Linked DNA regions of Homo sapiens: regions 2, 3 and 4 are each linked to region 1. Evidence: fine-mapped expression QTL. A gene starts in region 1. Each other region holds a variant in brackets. All regions are shown on one strand. Distances are between the middles of the regions. Region 1 holds the start of CSGALNACT2 (chondroitin sulfate N-acetylgalactosaminyltransferase 2). Region 2 overlaps RET (ret proto-oncogene). Region 3 overlaps CSGALNACT2 (chondroitin sulfate N-acetylgalactosaminyltransferase 2). Region 4 overlaps RASGEF1A (RasGEF domain family member 1A).

Evidence for each region. PIP is the estimated chance that this variant, and not a neighbour inherited with it, causes the effect. A credible set is the group of variants that fine-mapping cannot tell apart.
Region 2: its variant is the best candidate, but not a certain one, in a credible set for the expression of CSGALNACT2 in putamen (GTEx, PIP 0.78).
Region 3: its variant is the best candidate, but not a certain one, in a credible set for the expression of CSGALNACT2 in monocytes after R848 (Quach 2016, PIP 0.54).
Region 4: its variant is the best candidate, but not a certain one, in a credible set for the expression of CSGALNACT2 in whole blood (INTERVAL, PIP 0.79).

Annotation. Positions count from the first base shown.
Region 1 is chr10:43,136,197-43,141,370 of GRCh38, forward strand. It overlaps CSGALNACT2 (chondroitin sulfate N-acetylgalactosaminyltransferase 2), which reads left to right and starts at 2,249. Exons shown (of 8, transcript NM_018590.5): 1 at 2,249-2,371. It overlaps CSGALNACT2-DT (CSGALNACT2 divergent transcript), which reads right to left and starts at 2,197. Exons shown (of 1, transcript NR_186456.1): 1 at 628-2,197. RefSeq lists silencers at 1,546-1,745, 1,876-1,935, 2,106-2,605, 2,716-2,785.
Region 2 is chr10:43,114,478-43,119,534 of GRCh38, forward strand. RET (ret proto-oncogene) reads left to right here. Exons shown (of 20, transcript NM_020975.6): 11 at 3-259; 12 at 2,107-2,254; 13 at 3,896-4,003; 14 at 5,054-5,057. Among named protein-coding and RNA genes, the nearest start is that of CSGALNACT2-DT, 21 kb to the right of the region's middle. The variant T/C (reference allele first, on the strand shown) is at 1,940.
Region 3 is chr10:43,170,722-43,175,895 of GRCh38, forward strand. All of the region lies in intron 6 of CSGALNACT2 (chondroitin sulfate N-acetylgalactosaminyltransferase 2), which reads left to right. Among named protein-coding and RNA genes, the nearest start is that of CSGALNACT2, 35 kb to the left of the region's middle. RefSeq lists an enhancer at 2,144-2,313. The variant C/T (reference allele first, on the strand shown) is at 2,017.
Region 4 is chr10:43,252,231-43,257,404 of GRCh38, forward strand. The region is part of intron 1 of RASGEF1A (RasGEF domain family member 1A); the gene reads right to left. Among named protein-coding and RNA genes, the nearest start is that of RASGEF1A, 12 kb to the right of the region's middle. RefSeq lists a silencer at 3,718-3,907. The variant C/T (reference allele first, on the strand shown) is at 3,019.

The DNA.
Region 1 (5,174 bases):
GTGAGGCTGGCGAGAAATGGAATGTTTGTGTCTCTCAGGACATGAAAGCGAGACGGAAGGAGAACCTCATTCAGTTTTACTGGAAACCCACAGCAAAGTTTCTCCAAGTAGAGGCCGGTGTGATGAGAACTGCTAAATCATGAGCTGCGAGGCTGGCTCAAACAAGAGGCTTATGAGCCCCATGCCTGTGTCCTTTCCTACGGTTTTCCTTCTTATGACAAGCAGCACTTTTTGACAGCACAACACTAAACACTAACACAAAATACAGTGAAAAGGGATAAAAAGAATGGCCTGATTCCACTAGAGATGCCAGACAAATGAGAATCAATAACAAAACCAGAGTACCAAACTGAGAATAAATAGCCAGAGACCTCCACGCAGAGTGAGGTGAGCCCTAGTGCTGACCACATCGGCGCACCTGATAGGCCGAGAACATGGAGGCATGAGGGGCCTCTGGGTGGCACAATGGGTGGAAGCCTGGGGACCTCAGGGACAAGCAGTACAGACTTACCATGGGATCACCAGGAAAACTGTGGAAACCAGCAAAGGCTATTTATTCACAACTTGCTATAGCAGGGGAATCAGCCAGCATCACTTACTTTTGGTAGAAATTTAAAAGGCCCGAAAGAGATGGGAAACTTTTATTGTTTTGTTTTGTTTAAGTATCAGATTGGAAATTATTGGCAGGAAATGTTTTTAATTACATTTTTCTGATATTAAACCCAACACAGTTGTACTTTAATATTTTCCCTAGGAGAACTACTTATTTTACAACTATATCCCAGTGTATCACCCATGATCAGCCACATAATTTGAATCATGCATTATCTTCTCTCCACATTCAAATTACATACATTTAGTATTTGGCTACTTAAAAAAAAATCATTAAAAAGTAACAATTTAAATCCATTGATGGGAGAACCTCAGTTAGTTTCAAAACAACAATTCTTGCCAGGCGGGGTGACTCACGCCTGTAATGCCAGCACTTTGGGAGGCCGAAGCTGGAAGATCGCTTGAGCCCAGGAGTTCAAGGCCAGCCTAGGCAACAGAGGGAGGCCCCATCTCTACCAAAAAAAATATTAACAATTAGCCGGGCATGGTGGCATGCACCTGTGGTCCCAGCTACTCGGGAGGCTGAGGCGAGAGGATCGCTGGAGTCGGAGGTGGGGAGGCTGCAGTGAACCGTGATCGCTCCACTGCACTCCAGCCTGGGCGACAGAGCGGGACCCTGTCTCAAAAAATAGATGAATAAATAAATAAAAACAATTATAATGGAAGTTTGGATAGGAATTTAAAACATGTGGCAACTAACCCTGACCCTGCGGCTTCAGTCTCCCCGCCGCTAGCTGAGGGCCGTGGCCGCTGCACAGAGGCTTGTGAGGATTCGGGGGTTCAGGCAGCGCCCGCCGCGCATCTGCCAGACGTGCGGCCACAGGGTAGGAGCAGTAAGAAGGATCCAGGGAAAAAAGTCCACGAATGAGAAAGGAAACCCAGCGTTTGTAGGGCTAGGAGAACAAAGAAAGAAAATGCTGGCGGCGGAGGGCGAGGCTCTGCGGTGCGTGGCAGATGGGAATTTGCTCGGTGGCGGCTCCTCTTTCTGGAGAGCTTCCCAGCGTCCCCTCCCCCGCCAGCCCGCGGTGACGCGCCCGGCACCCACCACAGCCGGCTCTCGGCGCCGTCGCGCCTTCGCTCGCCCGCTTAGGCCGTGCTCGCGGTGGCGTGGGAGACAGAGAGCCCAGGGAGGACCCTGGAACATGCAGTGGTATGGAAGACGCCTAAGAAAGGGCTTCTCTTTCCACTCACGAAAATCAGTGTGTGAGCTCGAAGCCATTTCCCAGCGTGTCCGCCTCAACTCCCTCATTCAACAGATGAGGAATTCCTCCAGGGAAATGCAGTGATGCGCTCACGGCTGCCGGCGGCCCAGCGCCAAGGGGCGCTCCACAGCCCCGCGGCCCGAAGCCCTCGACTCGGCTGCCACGCAGGCCCCGCGGCCCCGCTCGGACTCCCAGGATCGGCTTCCGAGCGGGACAGCGCTGCAGTCCACGAGTCCGGGCAGGGGCGCCTCCAGGCCGGAGCGGTTTCCTGCCTCGGGCACTCTGCTGTCTCCACAAACGGTTTTTGGAGGCACACACACGGATACTTTAAACACGTCGGTGATGAATCGGTACCCAGCTGCCAGTGGCGGAGCTTCCTGGGCGGGGCCGCGGGCGCGCGGCGGCTTCATTTCCTCGCGCGCGCCGGAAGTGGCCTCTCAGGCGCGGCGGCGCGCCCGGGGGTGGGTGGCTGAGGCGGCGGCGGGCCCAAGGCGTGAGGCGCCGCCCGGGTGTCCCCGCGGCGCAGGAGGCGGTGGAGCGCAGAGCGGGCGAGCGCGGTGAGTACCTGGCCCGGCCTCGCCCGCCGGTCCGCGACTCCCGCCGGCTCCGGCCCGGGCGGTGCGGGCGCCGGGGCTGCGGGCTCCTGTGTGGTCGGGTGGGGTCGCCTAGCGGACCGGTCCTGCGGGGGGCCCTGTCTCTCAGGGATGAGCCTGCCGGAGTCGGCACCGGTTTTAGGGAAAGCGCGGCCAGAGACGATTGGTTCGCTTGTCAGTGTTGGGTTTTGTTTTGTTTCGTTTTGTTTTTACCTATTCATCACCATCTCTGCTCCTCTCAGTGGATAAACTTTTTAATCAGTGGTGACCTCGTCATCGCGTTAAAATAGTTCTGCCCTCAGCCCCTCTTTATCTGTAGATGGCAGAGCGAGCGCCGGTAAAGATGCTCTGTCGTGGAGGGCTCAGTGGGGCGGAGGAGATGGGGAGCCTCTGGCGTTGTCGGAGAATGCACCTTAAAAATGACTCTACCCTTGAGCAACGCAGGAAGCACGACAGTGATACTTCTGTTTGTGATGATGGTATTGGCGGTATGATAGTTTGATTATACATCTGAAGCTTCTCTTCCTGAGTCCTTGGCTTGTTAAACTTGGAGGTATTTTCTAGCGTGCTTTTGAGATAGATATGGGATGTCGTGACGTTTCACCGTCATTCAAGGCTCGCGGGAGCAGGGCCTTCATGTCTGGTAATTAATGTTGTTTTTTGAATGTTGTATTAAAATAGTAGCTTCGATCTTGGAAGTAAGAAGCCAAGTATTTTAGGACTGAGTGTTAGCGTTCATTTTGTATTATTGTTCTTGTACCATTTGTTTAAAGTTGTCATGTAACTAAAAGAATGAAAAAAGATGGATTTCCAGTATTTGTGGCTCAGAGGATTTTGGCCTAAATAAACACAGTTCCAACCAGTTTAGAAGCTGCATTTTTCTCTTTGTTTTTGTCGAGGCATAAAATACATATGAAATCAATAAGAGCACGAATCTTAATTGTACAGCTCAATGAATTTTTACATACTTATTACCCTGTGGAACCACCAGATATATCAAATTATAACCATAGAACATTTCCATCATCCTATTTTCCTGTGCTTCTTCCAAGTCAGTTATATCCTTGTTTTCCCATCTGTATTCTAACTTCTCTTATCTGCTTTTAGTTTTCTCTGTTTTGAGCTTCATGTTAATGGAATCACGTAGTATTCTCAGCATATTGTTTGTGGGACACACCCATGCTATTTCATGGTATTGTATTATTACTGTGTAATAGTCTATTGAATAATATGTGACTACTCTTCAGTTGATGGACATTTATGTTCCCAATTTTTGTATATGATGTGTTTTGGATATTAAGAATACTGTGGGCCTGGCGTGGTGGCTCAGGCCTTTTATCCCAGCGCTTGGGGAGGCCGAGGCAGGTGGATCACTTGGTCAGGAGTTCGAGACCAGCCTGGCAAACATGGTGAAACCGCATCTCTACTAAAAATACAAAAATTAGCCAGGCGTGGTGGCGGGCGCCTGTAAGCCCAGCTACTTGGGAGGCTGAGGCGGGAGGTGGAGGTTGCAGTGAGCCGAGATCGTGCCACTGCACTCCAGCCTGGACGACAGAGCCTGACTCGGTCTCAAAAAGAAAAGAAAAAAAAAAGAGTACTGTGGACATTCTTGTAAATTAAATGTCTTGGTGAGCATCTGTATGCATTTCTGTCAGCTATAGAATGACTGAGTCATGGCATAAGCAGAAAATTACCAACATGGAGTCATTACCAACCATACCATTACCAACCAAAGGCAGAAAATTTAACCAACATGGAGTCATCTTTTTTTTAATGTAATAGAATTTGTTATTTTAACTAATATAACATTCAAGGTTGGTTTTAAAAAAGCATAACTATTATGAGTTCAAGACGTAAGTGATTCATTCATTACCATGTTATTATTTACCCTTTGAATTGCACATTTATGACTGTCTTCTGTCGGACTGTCATTGTTTGTTTAACTGTTAGACAAGTCTGTTAGAGCTGGTGAGGATCTGACTCTGAAGTTTAGCATAACATTTACTTAAGAACTGTATTACTCAAGTTAGTGGTTTTTTAGAGGAAATGAAATACCAAAAGGATATGACTGAAAGTGGATTGAAGAATCACGGGACTGCAAGTCAAAGAACTTACATTGTTATTGTCATGCTACACAAGCACTAGGTATAAGTGTAAAATTGAATTATAGGGCTAGTTACAAATGTGAATTCACAGCAGGAGTACAGTGATTTTCATATGGACTGAGATACTACTAGCACATTTATAATGTGAACACACAACAAAAATCACTAAACATTTGTGGGAAATCGGTAGCATCTAAGAGAAGCTTCAGACCAAACAAATACAGAACTAGGCACTGAAGCAGTGGAGCTAATGTAAGACAAAAGAAAGCTTTAAAGTAAGTATTAGTATCTTCAAATTTGTTAAGGTATTATGCCTACTGAACACATACAGGCTGCCATGAAAAAAAGCAATTGATTCTTGAATATTTAAACATGGAAAGTAGGAAAGGGCCAGGTGTGGTGGCTCATGCCTGTAATTCCAACACTTTGGAAGGCCGAGGCAGGAGGATCTCTGGATTCCAGGAGTTTGAGAGCAGCCTAGGCAACATAATGAGACCCTGTCTCTACAAATAATTTTTTTTTTTTTTGAGACGGAGTCTGGCTCTGTTGCCCAGGCTGGAGTGCAGTGGCGCCATCTCGGCTTACTGCGAGCTCCACCTCCCAGGTTCACGCCATTCTCCTGCCTCAGCCTCCCGAGTAGCTGGGACTACAGGCGCCCGCCA
Region 2 (5,057 bases), 22 kb before region 1:
AGATCCACTGTGCGACGAGCTGTGCCGCACGGTGATCGCAGCCGCTGTCCTCTTCTCCTTCATCGTCTCGGTGCTGCTGTCTGCCTTCTGCATCCACTGCTACCACAAGTTTGCCCACAAGCCACCCATCTCCTCAGCTGAGATGACCTTCCGGAGGCCCGCCCAGGCCTTCCCGGTCAGCTACTCCTCTTCCGGTGCCCGCCGGCCCTCGCTGGACTCCATGGAGAACCAGGTCTCCGTGGATGCCTTCAAGATCCTGGTGAGGGTCCCTGCGGGGCAGGGAAGATCCCCTGCCCTCCCCAGCTGCCTTCCAGGGAGGGAGGCCAGCTGGGGAGACAGAGGCCATCCTGTGAGGGGCTGCCAACGCTGGGCAGACGAGGCCTGTGTTCTGCCCCCATTTCCATAGGGCGCTGTGTGGGGACAGTCTGTGGGGTGGGACTGTGATGAGGTGCCGTTCCCATCTAGGTGAGAGGCAGTGGTCAGGGTCACAGCATCGGGCAGGGGAGCAGCAGTGTGGATGGAGGGGCACTGAAGTCAGAAGGGGGTGCCTTTCTGGGGAGCCTGGCCTGCAGGTCTGCATGTGCTACTCAGAGCCTCCAGGCTGTGCCGAGTATCCTGGAGCCTCCTTGTCCCGGCCAGGCAGGCCTCTGCCCTCTCCTGGTGGTGGCCTGCCCCTTCAGTGTTCCTACTAGCACTGTCCAGGGCGCTGGAAGCCAAGCCCAGTTCTGGAAGTAACAGAGGCTCAGAGCCAAGGGTGTGAGTGAACGGTGAGCCACGCAGCTTATGGTGGCGTGAATAGCTCCTCGGCAGGAGCCTCCAGGGAGGAAGCTGAGCACCCAGTGGCCACAGGGCCCTGGCAGTTCCCATCTCAGGCTGGGAGGTGGCCTGGGATTCCTGGGAGGGGCCATATCCCACAGTGCAGCTCAGCCTGAGGCCTCGGCCCTGGAGCCTCCGTTCAGGCAACACCCAGCCCTCGGTAAGGGTGTGAGCCAAGGAGGCCTTCCCAGATGTGGCCACTGCCGCTTCCCCACCAGCTTTCCTAATTGGTGGTCCCCATCCTGGCCTGGCTGCAGCTTAGCCTCATGGCAGGGCTCTAGGATGAGCCACCAGAGTCCTTCATAAACCCAGTGGGTTTGTGTGAGGCTGCCCAGGAAGGCCGCACTGGTCTGGGCTGCTGCTGGCAGAGACCACCACCCTAACCCCAGTCAGCTCCAGAGTCACACTCATCAGCACCAGGTCTTGGACCCATGACTCAACCTCAGTATTTGAGAGGATCAGGTTGATGTCGCCCTCATGTGCTTATTGCAGTCTCTAGAGTGTGGTAAACAGGTTTCCAGTGCCAGCTGTGGAGGTGACAGCGGCAGGGAAGCCATGGCAGTGTCGACACTGACCTTGACTGTGGGTTCCCAGGGAATGTGGGGCCAGACCAGGACAGCCCAGGAGCAGGAGACCTGGGGTGACGGATGCCCAGAGCTGGCACATCAAGGGAGGGTTCCTGGATCATGGCAGGCTTTGGCCTCCCTGGTCAGAGTTCAAGTACTGGGGGCCAGGGTGGGGGTCTGGGAAGGCATCCGGAGCAGTCCCAAGTGGGCCCAATGTGTGGATAGAACTTTGGTGGGAGGGCAGGGTGGTAGTGCCAGCAGGCAGGGTGAGCGGGTGCGTGAGGGCCAGTGGCAGCCCTTGAGGAGCAGTGCTTCCACACTCTGAGGCGGAACATGGTGGCGCCTTTCTTTGCAGGGGTGGCTATGTAGAGAAGTTGTCCTGGACACTTCCACTGTAGTCAGAGGTCCTGGGCTGGGCCTGGTGCTCATTTAGTCCTGGGGCAGGGGTCAGGGGAGACAGTAGACCAGGAACCAGAGAGGGTCGAAGTACTGAGTCCAAGCCATGCTGTGACCACACCTGTCATGTAGCAGCTTTCAGGGGCCTGGCTGTGGGGTCC[T/C]GCCCAGGGCAGAGACAGGCAGCGTTGCCGCTGGCTCAGATGACAGCCGGTTCTCTGCACATTGGAACTTGTCCATGGGGCCTCCTTTAAGGGTCTTGCCTTCTTCCTCCCCTGTCATCCTCACACTTTTCCCCCCTCTTCTCCCCCTTCCCTCATTTCCAACATAGGAGGATCCAAAGTGGGAATTCCCTCGGAAGAACTTGGTTCTTGGAAAAACTCTAGGAGAAGGCGAATTTGGAAAAGTGGTCAAGGCAACGGCCTTCCATCTGAAAGGCAGAGCAGGGTACACCACGGTGGCCGTGAAGATGCTGAAAGGTACCTGCCAGGCACAGGCACAGTGCCCCTGGGGGAGTCTCCGGGGCGGGGGGCGGGTGAGGCCCCTCCTGCCCAGCATGGGACCCTGAAGAGCCCCCAATGCTGTTCTAGAGCGGCTGCAGTTGGGGGACCCCTACCATGGGCCACTTGGGCCTAGAGAAGCAGAGCGAGGACTTTGCTCTCCCTGGAAGGCTCTAGAGGTGTTGCTGTGCCAGTGCCACTGAAGATCTAAGCTTTAAACATTTAAAAAGCCCTTTGATTTTGAGCTGACAGCTGTCTTCACTCCAGTCTGCCCCATTCATTCCTCTCAGCCCAGTGTCTCCTGGGGTCTTGGTGAAGAGACCACCAGTAAGGACTGGCCCTCAATCTCAAGAGACCCCCATGGGCCTGTCTGGCCTGCATGCCCAGTCATGCCACAAGTTTGGCTCTCGATGGGCACATGCACCTACCCACACAGGCATGCGACTGCACTGAGTAGCCCCCTCTTCTGTGGCCAGGCCCCAGCCCTGTGAACAGCCAGGCTGAATGGCGGTGAGGGAGAGTGGTTGGTGTACATAACAATTATCTGCAGTAGTCGGGGGCTGCACAGCACAGGGTGCTTCCAGATGCCTACCCAGCCCCAGACTGGGTTCACCTCCAAGCCAGTAAAACCCCGGACTCTCCAGGGGCACAGGGAGACCCTTGGATTTCCATTGCAGCCATGCACAGCCCCAGGCTGCCCACACCTGGTCCAAGGGGTCCTGGGGCCCCAACTCCCAACTGTCCTCTCCCTTCCAGACAACCTTTCAGGACAGAGGAGGTGGCACGGCACAGCTGGGCAGTGGGACAGCTGACCTGGGAGGGATGGCTTAGCCATGTGTTCTGACTCTTGGAATACCTTCAGGCCCAGGCACCTGCTGGGCATTCCAGCACAGCTCTGGCCACCATCGGGACGCATGTGCTGGGCAGGTGATCCCTGTGGTGCCTCGTCCTGTTTCCATCATGCCTCTACAGTTAGACTCTCTGGGGAATCATGCTATTCATTAAGAATAAGCCAGAATGTCAGGTGTGCAGTGCACTGGTAACACTGCTTTATCTCAGGTGCTAATGTGGGTCTTCTTGGTAACTAACGGAGTGTGAGCTGCTGACGTGTGTGTGACGGATACATCAGCAGCACAGGAGATGCCTGGGCTCCAGGCTGGCCATCTCAGACAGGAGCGGGAAATGGGGAGCCTGGTCGCGGTGTGTGGACCTCCTTTATGGCTCTCCACCTTCTCCAGGGCCTCTCCCGACAAGTGGGTGTGTGGGTACCCCTCACCTTTCCAGAATGATTAATGCGGGGAATTTCTGTGGACGACTGTCTTCTAAAGACAATGACTACAGGAACATAATGCCACATACACAGGTGGCCCAGCCCTGGGACACTCTGGGGAAAGATCCGGCATGTGTGGTTGCTGGCTCCTCAGGGTGCTTCTTCCTCAGGGTGGATGAGGCCCCTGTCCACTGATCCCAAAGGCTGGGAGAAGCCTCAAGCAGCATCGTCTTTGCAGGCCTCTCTGTCTGAACTTGGGCAAGGCGATGCAGGTCCATCCTGACCTGGTATGGTCATGGAAGGGGCTTCCAGGAGCGATCGTTTGCAACCTGCTCTGTGCTGCATTTCAGAGAACGCCTCCCCGAGTGAGCTGCGAGACCTGCTGTCAGAGTTCAACGTCCTGAAGCAGGTCAACCACCCACATGTCATCAAATTGTATGGGGCCTGCAGCCAGGATGGTAAGGCCAGCTGCAGGGTGAGGTGGGCAGCCACTGCACCCAGGCTGGGGGCTCCATACAGCCCTGTTCTCCCTCTTTCTCCCTTTCCCTACTGCTCCTGCCCTGTTTCCTGTTCTCCCTCTTTCTGGAAGCCTGGCTCAGGCCCCAGCCTGGAGCTTGTGTCTAGCTGAGTCCACGGGCTGAGTGGTCACTTTCCATCAGAGGGGCCCCGCGCTAGCGGCACTCCCTGGGCCCACAGGGCTACTCAGAGGTCTCTGGTGTGACACTGCCATGTGTCCTCACCCAGTTCGGGGCTGGGCCCGTGGGGCAGGGAGCTCTAGGAATGGACAGTGCATCCTGGGTACTAGGGTACCCTGGGTACCACAGGGCACCAGGTGTGCTGTGACCTCAGGTGACCCCAGCCCCGCCCTGCATGGCAGGAACATTGTCACCATTTCTCAGATAAAGACCCAGGAGACCAGCCTGGTTTGTTGGTTTTCCAAACCACCATGCTGCTCAGGGGCTTCCCAGCATGCGTGTGTGGGTGTGTGCGAGAGGGATAGGGAACCCAAACACCGGGAGTGCGCAGCAGGCACTGTGGTCGGCACCAGTAGAGTTGGAGGCTGGGCCTGGGACAGGACAGGTGGGAACAGGGAGCAGGCTGTGTGCAGAGCCCAGCGCCAGGCAGGAACCCTTGCATCTGCGCAGGCCTCTGCCTCCATCAGCATCCCCAGCCTGCACTGGGGCAGGACCCAGGAGGCAAAAAGGCTTGGCGTCCTAGCATCAGGGAGGGGTGCCTCCCAGGGCAGTGTCGCCTGCCTCAGGCACCTCGAGAAGGAGGCACCCACACGAGCAGCAGGAGGCAGAGAGCAAGTGGTTCAAGAGAAAGCTGAGGCTTCAAGGTCTGCGCTCTCCACAGAGCTGCAGCAGTGCTGCCTGAGGCAGGGCTGTGTCCACCCCCTTACTCATTGGGTGGCCGGGCCTGGGGACCCTGCGGCCTCCCACCCCTGGCTCCTGGAAGACCCAAGCTGCCTGACCCGCACGCCCAGGGCCCCCTCTCTCCGCCCCCAGGCCC
Region 3 (5,174 bases), 35 kb after region 1:
TGGAAAGAAAAAACAAACTTTTCACGGGAGAAACCCAGCAGACACCTTAACCAAGGGATACCATGTACCCATGACATGACATAATGAGAAGGACACTTTAGCTCACAGTCCTCTTCCAAAAACGTAGATAACTTCCCCAGGAAAGTCACAGGGAAAGCTGCAGCAAGCCCACATTGAGGAGCATTGTACAAAATACCTGACCATTCTTCCTCAAAACTGTCAGGGTCACCAAAAACAAGACTGAGAAACCATCATAGCCAAGAGGAGACTAAGGAGACATGACAACCAAATGCAATGTGGTGCCCTGGACTAGGTCCTAGAATAGAAAAAAAAGACAGTAAAGGGAAAGCTGGTGAAATCCAAATGAAATCTGGAGTTGAGTTAAATAGTAATATAGCAATGATGGTTCCTTAGTTTTGACAAATGTACCACAACAATGTAAGATGATAACATTAGGGGAAGCTAAAACTGGATGAGGGGTATACAGGAACTCTCTTTACTGTTTTGCAACTTCTTTGTAAATCTAAAATTATTCCAAAATAAAAGGTTGTATATTAAAATTAATTAAAACAAAAAGAGGCAAATAAAGTCAACATAGAAGCGTGAAGGGAATGTAAAAGCATGCTAATACTCTTTTTTTTTTTTTTTGAGATGGAGTTTCGCTCTTGTTGCCCAGCCTGGAGTGCAGTGGCATGATCTTGGCTCACTGGAAACTCCACCTTCCCGTTTCAAGCGATTCTCCTGCCTCAGCCTCCCAAGTAGCTGGGATTACAGGCACACACCACCACGCCCAGCTAATTTTTGTATTTTTAGTAGAGATGGGGTTTCACCATGTTGGCCAGACTGGTCTCGAACTCCTGACCTTGTGATCTGCTGGCCTCAGCCTCCCAAAGTGTTGGGATTATAGGCATGAGCCACCGCACCCGGCCAAAGCATGCTAATATTCTTGCCTGGTTTGGAGGGTTGTAGGGGAAGAATGATTTGAATGCTGATTCATTCTAGGTGTTGCATAGCAACTTAAGTTTAAGCACTTCAAGTTCTAGTTTCACCACTTGTAACCTTTGCAAGTTGCTTAACTTTTCTAAGCTTCAGTCTCCTCACTTAAAAGACAAAAACTTGTTTTCCTTGATGTTTAAAGCTATATTAGAAGTAAATAAGAAGGAAAAAAATGGGTAAGACAGTTGATAATTCACATATTTAAATAGTCAGCCTTACTAGGAATAATTTAGAACAGCAGTATAATGCTTTGTTTCTGCTGTTAGGTCACTGCTTTTAAAAAGCAAAGCCATGTGAGCAAGACTGGGGGATGGGAGCTCCTCCGTCGCTTCTGTTGGGGATTCAGGCCAGTTCTCTGAGTCGAGTTCTAAACAGATTCATCCCTCTGATCCAGTAATTTCCACCCCCAACAGTCTTTCCTGGGGAAGTAATCGAGCTACATGATGGTAATATGCATAAATTGATAACATTAAAAGCAAGCAAAACTCTAATAATAAAAGGATAAATTGAATTATGGTACATTCTCTGGTGAATATTGCATATCAAGGAAAATGTGAAAAATGTAAATACAGCCGTGTAAATGAAGAGGAAAATGTAAAGCTAAAAAGCGGGAAATAGCGTATCTATATTTTAGGTAACATTTAAATGATGATAATAGCTAATATTTTTATGAACCCCTTACTATGTGCAGGGTACTTGTTCTGTTTTGCCTACACATTAATTCATTTAATCCTCCTAACAACCTCTGAGGTATGTAGTATTACTGCCCCATTTTTCACAGCTGTGCTGCAGTCGAGTGCCTGTCCAAGTACACACTGGCCTGAGTAGGCCCAGGAGGCTGGGTGATGTGGCTCCGCAGCCTCCACTCCTGTCCACTGTGCACACTGCCTCTGTTATATTAATTCATCAAATATTGAGGGTCCCTTTGATGCCACGCACTATCCACCACTGGCACCCTGACACTTAGACCCTAACAGATATGGCTGTTGCTCGTGAGGATCTTTATTTATTAGGAGGTGA[C/T]AGAAAGTAAAATCAGATAATGCATGCCACGTGGATCATTAAAACAGACTGAGTTGCAAAGAGTGACTCCGTGGTTTCTGTGGCTTGTTTGGTCAGAAAGGTGTTTCTGAGATGAAGCTGAGCAGAGCTGTCCAAAGAACAGGAAAGAACCAGCTAGGCTGTGATTGGGGGATAGTGGTTTCAGGCAGAAAGAACAGCTACTGGGTTTCCTAGGGTGTTTGGAGCACAGCCGGTGAGGGGCACATAGCTGGGCCAGGGCATGTAGAGCTTGTTCAGCCTCTGGAAGGCATTGGGATTTTATGCTAAGTATGTTGGAAAGCCTTTGGAGGGAGAATGGATTGTGTGTGGCTCTGGCTGGCAGCAGCCAGTTAGGCTTTCACAGTAGACAAGGGGAGATGATTGTGGCTTGGGTGACAGTGTATTATAATTACGGAGAAAGGTTTGGATATGATTCAGAGATAGGGCTGACAGAGCTTGCTGTTGGATTAGATGTAGGAAATTAGCAAAGGAAAGGAATGGGAGAGCAGAGATTGGGATTCAACTGGAGCCATAGTAGCCATGTGTTGTTTATCAGACATCCAAGGGGAGGTGCCAAATTGCTAGTTGGCTACAGGGATCTGGCATTCTGTGAGAGGCCAAGGCTTGGGTATATAGGTTATGTGTGGATAACTGCATCTCCCACATGCTTAGGAGGCCAGATAAAACAGTGCAAGAAAATATTAACAATAAGGATTATGGACAATTTGAGTTTCCTTCTACTTTCCTTTGTGAAAATGTGTTGCTTTAAAAATCAAACCAATGATTCCTTTTTCCAAGTCTGATAATATTTGAAGAATTTTTAGAGAAACTAAGTTACAAAGTTATAGTACTTATATAATCAGAATTGGCATGGTGTAGAGATGTCAAAGTGGGTGTTTTGCTTTTTAATACTTTGTATCAGGGTTATATTTTAACAAAGAGATAAGAATATTAGAGACAGGAGTGGTGGCTCACACGTGTAATCCGAGCACTTTGGGATGCCGAGGTGGGTGGATCACCAGAGGTCAAGAGTTCGATACCAGCCTGGCCAACATGGTGAAACCCTGTCTCTACTATAAATACCAAAATTAGCCAGGTGTGGTGGCGCACACCTGTAATCCCAGCTGTTCAGCGGACTGAGGCACGGAAATCGCTTGAACCTGGGAGCTGGAGGTTGCAGTGAGCCAAGATTGTGCCACTGCCGTCCAGTCTGGGCAACACAGTGAGACTCTGTCTCAAAATAATAATAATAATAGAGTCTAGTCTTCATTTTGCCACTAAAATTATGTCTCTCTATATATTTATTTATTCAACACGTATTTATTGAAAGCTTGTCATGTGCCTGGCATTGTTCTAGGTGCTAGGAATATAGCAGTGAACAGAATCCACAAGTCCTCCCCTCAGGGAGCTTTACATTCTAGAAGGGGAAGAAGTTCTCCCCCTCAGCTCAAAAAAAAAAAAATTGAAAAGAAAAATGCCAAACTCATCCATCAGCTCCAATCTGAGCTGAGCCCTCAGGGCTGCCTGGTTCATTATGTGTTTTCCTGTTGATTCTCCTATTCTGTACAGCAGCAATTTCAGACTGTGCCCACTCTTCTCAAAATTTGTCACCTCTGCAGACCTTGATATTCCTGCTATCTGCAGGAATTTCTGTGTAGGTGCCTTACAGATCACTCAGATTCATTATGGCCAGAACCAACTCCATGTTGTTCCTCTCTGGGCTGGCCCTTCCCCTGGGCTTCATCTTAGGGATAGCACCATTACATACCCACTGTTCAGGACGGAAGCCTGCTGTCATCTTGGTTGATCCTTCTCCTTCACTCCCCACTCCTGCCCATTCAATCACTTGCTGACTTCTGTGAAGTCTCTGACCTAAATCTTTTCCACATTCCACATCCATACACTCTTTTGCTTTTGGTACATACCACAGTAGCACACACTAGACTAGCAGCTTCCCATCCCTAGTTATAGCTGTTGCCTCTTTTCTTTGTAGCATGTATCACCACCTAAAATGTATATTTATTTATTTACTATTTTCCCACCCAAACAAAGGCGCTTTGATGGCAGGGACTTTGTCACCTCTGTTTATTGCTAAGCCTCAGTTACTAGAACCATATCCAAAAGATTAAACACTTGTTGAAAGTATGAATAAAATAAAAGGTTTATCAGGCTTCAACTTGTAAGCAGAAGTGATTCCAAGGACTCAGTGTCATCAATGCCCTGGTTTTATATTTCTTTCTCTACTTAGACTTAAGTGGTGACAGCCTCATATTAAAGCTGGTTTCTCGCATGGTAGAAAAGGACTTTGGCAGTTCCAAGCTTCATAGCTGCATCGTGCACTAGAGGTCAACAAATGTTTTCTGTAGAGAGCCAGATAAGAAATGTTTTAATCTTTATAGGCCATACAGTTCTGCTGCAACTACTCAACTCTGCCACTGCACTGTGAAAGCACCCATAGACAATTTGTAAACAGATCAACACAACTACGTTCCACTAAAATTATTTACTAAAGCAGGCAGCAGGCCAGATTTAGCCAGAGGCCATCGTTTGCTGACCCTGCCCTACGACCAAATGTCCTTTCTAGTGAGTCTCTTAGAAGAACGAAGGAGCTTTGTTTTCCAAAGTTCCCAACAACCACCCTGGTTTACCTACTTGGCCTGATTTTTTTTTAAATACCTATTAGTGAGCCAGTAAGTAAGTGAGCCACTATGGTAAGTGGGGTGAGACTGTCTCACTAGTATAGAGACTCATGGCCCACTCCGAATCTACTGGTGACAGCAGCTTCCCTGAATTCATGGGCTGCCCAGGGCCAGGTAATTACCAGAACAAAACTGTACCAATCAGGAAGGGGGTTGGGGGAATGGATACTGGGTAGGCACCAGATAAAGTCTACTGTGTAAGGTTGATCCTGTGTGTTACAATTTGTTTATGCAACTGTTGTCCTAGAATGTAAGCCCCTTGAAGTCAGGCACCACAATGATAATTAGTAACCTCAGCTTGCACCTTGTACAGGCTTTGAGTTCTATTTTTATTTGTTTTGTAAGGATTTAATAACATAAGTGCATGTGATCCTTAATCAGTCACATAAATGACAGGAAAAAAGTATACATTAGAAAATAATTTGTTTCATCGTTGATTAA
Region 4 (5,174 bases), 120 kb after region 1:
GGCACACTCCACATCGTGGACACATCTTTAGTTTCAAGGGTGTCAGCAGGTGGGACACAGAGCAGTGCACCCCAGAAGGAGCAGACAGACCAGCACACCCACCTCTCCACAGCCAGGACTAGGTGGGCAGGGGAACCAGGCCAGGAGTCAAGGGCCTGGCCAGGCACTTGGAGTTGGAAGGCAGGGAGGAAGGGGTGGGCTACGGGGCTGCGGGACAGGCCGGGGCTCGGCATCCAGCAGCTCTTTCTAGTAGGCAGGCCTGCCTGGGAAGGAAGGGCAGGGCATTAATGGGTAGTCAGTGACTCTGTCTTCCAAACCCAACTGCCTGGCCAGGCCCTTGACTTCTGCTTAGCCATGGACTCCCAGGAAGGGAGGGGACGTGACTGTGAGGCAGACACAGTGCACTTTCTTTTCTGAAGGTCTGATTTCCCCTCACATGTCCTAAGCTCAGGGGCTTTTTAGCACAGACAGAGGACCCGGTTTCAGGGCTCGGCTGCCAAACTCACCTGACTCCCACTGGCAATAGAGCCCCTCCACAGAGGCTTGCAGGCTCCCTCTGCTGCACACCCAGTGACTGGCTCGCGGCGGGAGGCAGCACCCGAGAGAGGACCCTGTGCCTCCTGCTCACCCTCGACACAGACCCACTGGGACTAACCGCTCCCCTGCACCCTGGCACTCATCGTCCGCACCCCACTGGAACCCACAATCTGCTGCCAACAACCCCAGCTCTCCTCACAGAGCACCGCACCCCACGCCTTCAGGACCAGCGAGTTCAAAGGAGCCCATCGTGGGCAAACCCCCATGGTCTCCTCTGTCCATGCCCCAGACAAAGGGGCTGTGCACACCCAGCCCAGGGAGGGCCCACAGGCGGGGGTGCCCCCACACACTTCCACGCCCACCGTAGCAAGGCCACCTGCAGGAGGGGCCTGGCCAGGTCCAGCCTTCCTGACACCCACCCCACACCCCCCACCACCTCATCCTGATGTGTTCAGCGGGTGCCACAACCTCCAAACTACCCCGTGTGTGGATTTGAGGTCCTTGTAGCTCCCCAGACTGTAAACTCCCAAATCCCCGGGGAGGGCTGCCTTGCTCACCTCATGTGAGGGATTAGGCTCTCAAGAGTGGGTATGGCCCCCAAATATGCCCACAGCCTGATCTCCAGAACCTGGGAATGTTCCCGTATTCGGCAAAAGGGACTCTGTAGGTGTAATTAGGCAGAGGCTCTTAAGGCTGCTGGGAGATTCTCCTGGGTGGGCCCATTGTATTCACAAGTCCTTAAAGTTGAAGAATCTTTCCCCGCTGCAGTCAGAGAAAGTGTGAGGACAAGACAGGGTCAGGGAGATGGTGGCGTCAGGGGACCCAACACCTGTGGCTGGCTCGGAGCTGTAGGGAGCCTCACACAAGGCCCAGAGGGGGCTCTAGGGGCCCTCAGGGGCCAACATCCCACAGGGGACGGGGACCTCAAGGAATGAGATTCTACCAACAGACACCTGCGTGACCACGATTCTGCCTGGAGCCTCCGAAGAGGCAGGCCGGCCAGCGCCTTGACCTCAGCCCCTAAGACCCGACCCAGCCTCTGACCTACTGGCCGAGATAAGAAGCATGTGGTGCGGAAGCAGCTCCATCTGTGGGACTTTTTTGCAGCAGCAATAAGAGGCAGGGGCAGCCCACCCTGCTTTGAGCACCAGCCGGCTGGCCACAGGCACAGACCACAGGGGCAGGACCCCTCTAGGGCTCACCCGGCAGTGCCCCTAAGCTGGGCCTGGGGCAGGCCTGCCTCCCCATGGGGTCTGGCACCATCCTCCCCACCCTCAGGCCCACAGAGGGCAGACGGAGACTCACATGCCAGGCCCAGTGCTCGGTGGATGGCCTCCCACCAGGGCTGTGCTCTGTGACCCCAGCTGTGCAAGGAAGTGGGCTGCAGGAAAATATCCCCTGCAGGAAACCCTGGAGCCAGGACACTTCAGGGAGGGCGGGAGACAAACAGAGGGGGCCTTCAGGGTCCTCTTGGGAACTGCAATGTGCCAGTGGCACCAGGACAGCTGTGGGGCCATGGAGGGCTGCAAGGGGCCATGTAGGTAGACCCCCCCAGTGCTGGCGGCCTCCACTTGTTGCCCCCTTAGATCTGTGTGGTGGGGCACTGGCCCTCCTGCTGAGGGCACGGGTTTCCTAACAGGCACCTATCCTTCAAGCTCCTTGGGCCTGGCCCAGACCTTCCAGCCCTGTGGGCTGTGCTCTTCCTGCTGGTCCTGCCTGCCCTCTCCACCTCGGGCCTCACGGCTGCACCGCTAACCCCCGCCCCCGGACCTGGTCTACTGTTGCAGGGCCCGGAACTGACACCTTCACACTCAGGTCACAGCGCAGTGACACCCGGCCTCTGGGCCTCAGCTGCTGGCAGAAGGCTGGGTGGGGGCTAGGTGGGGGCTGGGAGTCCATAAGGCTGTGCTCCCTGAGCAAGTCTCTGTGGTCACAGGCAAGGATGGAAACCGCTGCTGTAGCTCAGAGGTAAAACGGGTCTCTGTGGGATGAGCTCCAAGCAGGGGTCCAAGCAGGGGCTCCTCCTAGGGTCCCCAGAATAATCCCTGACTAAAGGGAGGGAACAAAGGAGACAGTCCCTTTATGGCACACAAGCAATGACACCAGTGACTCCATTGGGTCTGACATTGGGACCTCCTTGTGTAGCTGGTAGCCCCAGGGCCCACTGGAGGCCCCTCTATCCCCGCACTCCTGACACACTCGGCTGGGAACACTGGGGACTTTCCTCCTGGGCAGAGGCTCCCCATTCCCAGGCATCTGGAGAGGAAACCGGGAAGTGTGGGGTTTCCAGCACCTCCGGGAAGCCCCAGCCACCACCTGGTCTCTGCCTGGCAGAGTCCAGCCCCACCAGCCCAGCCCCTCCAGCCGGTGTCGGGCTTGGCTGCAGTGGGAATGCCCAGCAGGAAGGACAGCAGGATCCAGGAAATCTCCCAAAGTCACTATGCTGCACGGCCCCACCCAGGCCCCAGCGCCCTCCAGGCC[C/T]CTCACACCACCTAGGCCAAGCCGCCCAGCCCTGCCCGCCTAGGCTGCCCACTCAGCATCGCTCCTTCCTGCCCCACCCACTGCCATCTGGGCCTGGACGGCTCCAGGATATCCTGGACAGTGGGGCAGGCTGAGGTGAGAGAGCTGACCACTGTCCTGACCCAGCCCCAGGGCTGCACCCTCATCCAAAGGCTGGGGACAGCTGCCCCCACCTCCTCTTAGGCTGCAAGCTCTGGGGGCAGGCACACTCCTCACTCCTTGTCTCACAGCCCTGCCCAGAGCCTGCACCTGGAGCAGGACAGGAACATCACAGCTCTGCCATGTACCCTCTGCAGCCACCACTCTGAGGAGGTGAGGAGTGTCACTGGCATTTCATAGCAGCACAGACTGAGGCCAGAAACCGGAAGTGTCTGTCCAAGGACACAGGACACTGGTCAGGGCCAGAGTTAAAACCAAAACCCAGACTCCCATGTCAGGGGAACCCTGGAGCCAGGGCTGGGGGTGCTGGGGTGGGAGTAGGCACAAGTGTTGGCTCAGGACCACCAGGTGGTGGGTGTGTGGCCATTCCTGGGCACCTGTCACCCTTGGCTTCTCTGGGCTGGCTCCTGGCGCTGTCTGCCCACTGGCACCCCACTCCCCCAGAGGAGCACCAGTCTAGAGTGGGGGTGCAGTGTGGTCTGGGCTTCTCCGATGCCCTCCTTCCTCCCCTGGTTGCCAACAATGCTAAAGCTGCACGCCTGTGATCAGGGAGGCCCTCTCAGCTTGACTGCTCTCTCCTGCCCCCTAGAGCTACCATAGTGTTTAGACAGAGGCCATCCCCAGCCTAGGGGGAGCACTGTGCAGGAGGAGGCCCCCAGGGGACCCAGAGTGAACTGACTTTAGGGAGCCCATGCTAATGACTGTCCTGGCCACACTGTGCCCCACAAGCCACAGGTGGAGTGAGGATGCTGAGGGGGCCTGGAGCCAGGACAAGGCAAGCCAGGCGGGGGCAGGTGCGGCAGGTGCTGCTGGAGTCCCCCAACCCCTACCCAGAACACACAGCAGCCTGCATCCAGGCAGCCAGTGCGGAGCTTGGTTCTTGATCCGGCTGTGACTGGCTGTGTCCTCCCTGGACCATGTGCTCAGAGATGGGACAAGGGCTGAGCGGCTTGTCACAGGCAGAAAGAAGAACAGGAACAGGAACCTCAGGGAAAGAAAGGGCTGGTTGGGGGTGGAGGGGGTGGTGAATCAATAGCCAAGGGAGGTGGGTGAAGAAAGTGAGGTGCAGCAGGTCAAATACGCAGACCAGAGTGGCCTCTCCAGGATCCCTGCCCACATTGTAATGCATGGGCTACCTCTCTCGGCTTCCAGGGCACTGCACACTCAGTGCGACTCTGGACCTCAGCCGCTTCCCCCACACAGTCTCCCGTCCCTGGTTCTCTCCACGTTGGGGCTGAGGATGTGTCTGGTGTGGACCAGCGCACACCACAGCCACAGAGCAGTGCCCCCACTCGCGCCATCTGCACACAGACACAGATGAGCCGTGAAGGTGGCATGAAACCCCGGGCCTCTGTTCCCCGACTTTCTTGCCATTCCCTGGTTGCCGGCAGGAGTCCATCTTGGGGCCCAGCTGTTTCCTCTACAACCGGAAACCCCCTTCCTCCCTTCATGGTTTTGCCCAAACCTGGCCTTCCCAGGGTGGCTGCCTTCATCGCTCCCTCCTGGCACCTCTCCCTCCTTCCAGAATCATTAGGCTCATTTCTGTCTATTTTTAGGTTGTGTCTGCACTCCCAGAGTCTGGGCCATGCCTGGCGTGCATGGCCTGCAGTGGGTGAGGTTGTGATCCGACATCTCTCCCCAGGTCAACTTTCCACTCTCCAATGGTTCTGCCTGAGTCCATCTCTCAGGTGGGGGTGAGGGTGAGCAGCACCTTGCAGAATCCCTCACATGGCTCCAGAGGTCACAGCAAGAGGGAGGAGCCATGAGGCCTGGGTTCACACCCTGGACTGGCCACTTCTCGTTATCAGCACCAGCAGGACTCTTGACCCCTCCAAGCCTCGCTGACACACTGGTGATGATTTGCATGCCCACCCTGGGCCCACTTGTGTCTAGACACCCCTCACCAGGTGGGCAGCTCATCAGCCACATGGGGCCTTGCCCAGCGAGTCCCACCCATG